Linked DNA regions of Homo sapiens: region 2 is linked to region 1. The links come from fine-mapping of genetic effects on gene expression. Tissue or cell type: lung. Region 1 holds a variant in brackets; the other region holds the start of a gene. All regions are shown on one strand. Distances are between the middles of the regions.

The links. PIP is the estimated chance that this variant, and not a neighbour inherited with it, causes the effect.
Region 2: EVA1A starts here. The variant in region 1 is fine-mapped to the expression of EVA1A in lung (TOPMed, PIP 0.95).

The regions. Positions count from the first base shown.
Region 1 is chr2:75,594,254-75,596,937 of GRCh38, forward strand. No RefSeq gene overlaps it. Among named protein-coding and RNA genes, the nearest start is that of EVA1A, 35 kb to the left of the region's middle. The variant C/T (reference allele first, on the strand shown) is at 1,175.
Region 2 is chr2:75,559,792-75,562,475 of GRCh38, forward strand. EVA1A (eva-1 homolog A, regulator of programmed cell death) reads right to left here and starts at 1,148. Exons shown (of 4, transcript NM_001135032.2): 1 at 889-1,148. RefSeq lists a silencer at 1,098-1,157.

The DNA.
Region 1 (2,684 bases):
ATATGTTAAGTGAATAAAGCCATTTTAGAACAGTACATACAATAAATTCCATTTGTGTGAAAAATTAAAACATAAAAATATTATAATTTCACAAGTACACATGTGCATGTAAATATGTATGTAAAAATTCGAAGGGATACACACATATAATTCACCCTGGAGAGGAAAATGAGAAGTGGCAAACGGGGATTTCAGCATTATTTGCAGTACTTGAATTATTTATAAACAGAATGTATACACATATTACTTGTACAAAAGGTAAAAACTTCTATATGTAGAAATAAAATTAAATGATTGATCTAATAGGGAGATAATTACCTATAAACTGAATAAAGAAAACTCATCACCCAGGATACCAACACAAGAAGCATTGGTGGCTATTTTTGCATAAAAGATGAAAGAAAGCAGCCATAAAAAAGTTTATGTTCTTCCCCCAAGGAAAAGAATGGCAATCAATGACAAGTCACAGCTGCATAGACGCAGCCCCATCTATGTGCTGACTCAGGAGGTAACGCAGTGCTTCCTCTCTTTGATTACCAGGGGTCTTGACTTCTGTACTAAAGTAAGAGAGAAAAATAATCTCTAAAAAACAGTTTTAATAAATATCACCTTTGCTGAGGGTAGGAAAACGACACTAATTTCACTGACAGACAGATTATCTCACACCACTGGCTTTTCAGAAAAATTGTGAAGCATGTCTGTAAGACAGCCCTTTAAAAAGACAATACTCTATGAAGTATTTTAAACACTGTTAACTAGAATTTTCTTTGTTAGTTTATGTCCCGGCATTCATAATTATGAGTTGCACATGATAAGCAAACAAAAGCCACTACCATTCAACTGATAGCATCATTTTCTCAACAGTTACTGGTTGTTCTGAGAATACTGACAGGCCCCTGACAAGTTTACTGGGTGAAAGAGTGCTAATTCCTGCATTAATAAGGAGAGACTTTTGTCATTAATAAGTCTTTGAAGTAGAAAAAAAAAAACCCAAATTGGTTAAGAGGCATGATCCTAATCCCAAAGCCACAAAAGAATGAGAAAGCTTCAGAGGGATAAGCCTACAATCTCTGCCTAGATCAATCAGGCTAGACTAGACTATGCTACCATAACAAACATCCCCCAAATCTCAGTGGCTTCAAACAATAAAAATCTCTTTATTGCTAATACTACA[C/T]GTCCATCGTAAGTCAGCAAGGAGGTCCTGTACATCACAGTCACTCAGGAACTCATACTAACAGAGCAACTGCCATTCAGAAAGTTGCCACTCCCACCATGCAGATAGAAAGACAGAGAATTCTGGAGGATCTTGCACTGGTAATAAAATGTTCTGGCCCAGAAGTGACACACATCACTTCTGATCATTGGCCAGAGCTAGGTATATGGGCCCACTTAATCAAAGGATGCAAGAAAGTGCAATTCTGCCATGTGCCCAGAAGAGAGAAGAGCTATAAATAGTTGGCAAACAACATTAATAACTCACATTAGCCTGGCCCAGGGGCATCAGAGACATCTATATTGAGGATCCCAGGCCAACACCAAGTTGAAGCACAGGTCTGGAGAGAACCTGGAGGCCTCAGGTTGGCTTAACCAAGAAGTAGAAAAAACTCATCCTGCCCAAGAATCTTAACATAAGTGGAAAAATCCAGTAATGTCTAGTTTAGAATAATCTGTGCATGTAGGTGATGCTGGGATGTTTCTCCAAATTCCTCACAAATGATTCATGATCAGTAATTTTCAAAGCTAGCTGGTCATCAGAATCACTGGGGATGCTTTAGAAACTAGGAATGTCCAAGATCAACAAACCAGCAGGAAAAAAAAAAAAAAAGAAAGAAAAAAAGAGATGTCTGAGTCTTATTCCTAAGAATTTTAATTCAATATACAGTTGGAATAGGTCCCAAGAATCTACATACTTAATCCTCTGTAGTAAAATAAAAAGGCTTATTTGGTCCTTGTCCCCCATTTCTGGCACTGAGCTTCTAATACCCTTGGAATTTTCTGACTGTTAGAAGTGTTAGGGATGTCTCGTTATTCATAACAAGCTCTTTTCAAACATATCTGAGTCTATACTAATGAGGTGACTCAGGGTGGGCCTGAGATAGCTTCTCATGGGTTCCAGGGGGATCAGCCATGTGAGTGGAGGGTTGAAACTTTGAGCTACACAGTTCCACTCTTGAACCTCTCGGGAGGGGAGTGGAGCTGGAAATTGAGTCAAATTACAAATGGCCAATAATTTAATCAATTATGCCCTTGTAACAGAATCTCCATTAAAAAAAAAAACACCCTAAAAGATGGGGCTCAGAGAGCTTCCAAACTGGCAAACACATCCCCAAAGGCTCTTGCACTTGGGACCCTCCCAAACCTTGTGCTATGTACCTTTTCACCTAGCTGTTCATTTGTATCCTTTATAATCAACTTCAATAGTAAATATAGCATTTTTCTGAGTTCTGTGAATTGTTCTAACAAATTATCAAAACTTGGGCCAGGAGAAGCTATGAGAACCCCCAAGTTTGTGGCCAATTTGGTAACTTTGGGGGCTTGATACTTGTGACTGGCTCCTGAAGTGAGAGCAGTCTTGTGGGTCTGAGACCTTAACCCTGTGTTGCCTGACACTCACTCCAGGCAGTTAGTGTCAAAATTGAATTAATAGATGAGTCAGAGAATTCGTTGAGTAGAGGACACCTCTT
Region 2 (2,684 bases), 34 kb before region 1:
GACCAGCTAGGACCCAAATCCTGGCTGGGCCCTTTCCTAGCTAGCTGTGTGGCCCCATCTCATTTTGCCCGTTTGTAAAATAGGGGTAAGAGTCCCTACACACAGGCTTGTTATGAGAACTCAGGCAGTTAATAAGAACAACATGGCAAGCCAGCACGATGTGGTTGGCACTCCTCTCCTTCCAGGACATCCTCATTTCCTCCATGTCCCAACGCGCTCCGTACTGCGTGCCAACACCTCCCCTTACCCCTCAATAGTAGGGGTGGGGACCCCCACGCAGACCTCCCAGATAGAGCAGCGTGGACTGTCTGCGCGCCCCTCTCCAAAAGCAAAGCGTCCCACTGGGACTTTAGGGGGCGCCAACAGCCTTTCACTCCCTGATGCACTCGGCTTTCGGGGTCCTGGGGGTCGCCAAATGCGCGCGGCGAGTTGGCTGCCTCCGAAACAAACCAGGTAAATAGTCCACGGTGCAGCACGTACATTTCTGGCAGGTCCGCCCCGCGCAGGCTTGGGATAGAAGCCAGTCAGGCTCAGCCCAGCTCCCAGAGGCACAGGAGAGAAGCGCTAGATTTGGGAACGACCTGCTTTCCGAAGCTGGGCTGCAGAGGCAGGGAGTTGAGAGTTGTTCTATCCAGAAAGAAGCAGGGGGGGCGAGAGAAGAAACAGGAAAGTGGGAGGAAGAGGAGGCAAAAAAGAAAGCGCTGGGAAGCAGAGTTCCCTGTGGGACCCAGCCTACAACACCTGGGCAGGGACTTGGGAACAAAGCAGCTGCTTCAGGTCAGAAGTGCTCTGGGTGTTTCCGAAAAGAGGGCGCTTCGGAGAAGCCGGAGCCCGCTGGGGATGCCGGGCGCCCCCAGAGTTCAGGGAGCGCTCTCGGGCACCTCTTACCTTTGCTGGGGCCCCGGCGCGCACTTCCGGGGACTGCGCTTGGGGCGCGCGGGGCCGAGCAGGGGGACCCGGAGCTGATCACTGAGGGGCGGACACGACAAAGCGCTGCCCGGGTCTTGGGCCGGCACCAGTACCTCGGAAAGGAATCCCGGCGGAGGGGCCGCCGGGGTCAGGGCTGGCCTGGGGATGTGGGGTCCCGGCCTGGGTGCTCACGGACGGCGGCGCCAAGCCCCGCAGAAGCTGCAGGAGCCCGAGTCAGTGGGAGGAAAAGGTTGTCTCATTTCCTTCGATCTCCCCCCTCCTCCACCCGCTTGGCTCCGGACCTGCCCTCCCTCTCCCCCGCCCCCTTCTGCAAGCCAGCGGCCCATGTGGGCGCCCGCAAGACGCGAAACCTGAACGGCTGCGGCGTGCGGCACCTCCCTCCGCGCCAAGTTAGTTCACGCTCCCAACTCCTGCCTGCCTCCCCGCGCTGCCGACTGTCCGCAGGACCGGGGAGGTTCCCCATCGGCAGTCCCCAACCTATCCCGGTCCTCCAGGCTTTCCCCCTGCTGGGACGAGCCCAGATTTGAAAGCAGACCTCCAAGCCCCTGCCAGCATCCATCCTCTCATTCCTGTCCCGTCGCCTGCTTTGAGCCTGTATTCAGCTACTCAACTCAGACAGGAAATAACCACTTACTTTGTTAAATTTGATCAACTTTTTTTTTTTTTTTTTTCTGAGTGGGAAGTTAAAGCCTGATGCATAATCTCGAAGGAATGTTCATTTTTATCGGAAGAAATGCAGCTGAGGCCTCTGTTTGGCCTTTCTCTTTCAGGGTTGGGGTTTTGTTTGTTAAAATCAACAAGTATTTTATTGAGAGTGATGGGCGCTCAGCTGGGGGCTGGAAACGCAGAAACAACTAGAGGGACACCCTGTTCCTATACAATCGTCATAGGGGAAGAGTGCAGGGAGAGAACAGGTCCCGGGTTGCGGTGGTCTCTTAAGAGATGGGTCACGGAGTGAAAGAGCCTTCTACAGAATCAAAATAAAAGCTTGGACAGAGGGAAGACGGAATAAGAAAGCCTTCAGGAGGCGGTCTAGCAAAGAGCACAGCCAGGGCAGTGAGTGATGGTGGGGAACAGGGAGGAAAATATTGTGCCAGTCCGTTAGGAAAGGAGAGGAGCTCCTAGAAGCAGTGTGATGGAACTGACAAGATCTGATGACCAAGGGCTTGAAAGGGAGAAGATGAGGAGAGGATGAAGGAGAGAGGTGACTCCCAGGCCTCTGGCTAGAGTAGCCAGTGACCACGTGGATGACTAGAATCCCAGAGTGCCTTCTGGAGCTGCTACTCCAAGTGTGGTCCAGAGACTGGCAGTACTAACACCACATGGAAGCTTTATGGAAATGAAAACCCTCGGGCCGCACTTGAACCACTGGATTAGTATCTGCAGCTTAACAAGATCCCTAGATGATTCAAATGTGCATTAGAATTTGGAAGCACTGGCTGCTAGACCACTGACTGTATATTATGCTGTATATTGGACTGATTGTATATTAGACTATGGAGCCCTGGGTGTCTATTAGAAACACCTGGGGAGCTTTAAAAACCAATAGGTGGCCCCAGCTCCACCCTCACAAATATTTCTGTAATTGTCTGGGGTGGAGCTCCCACATCAGTTTTTTTTCAGATGCTCTCAAGATGATCTCATACAGCCAGAGATGAGAGCCACTGTTTCAGACTTACTCAAGAGCTACTTCATTTTACCTTGAAATGCTGCTCTTCAAAAGGAAAACAACACCTATCTGTAGATGAAAACGT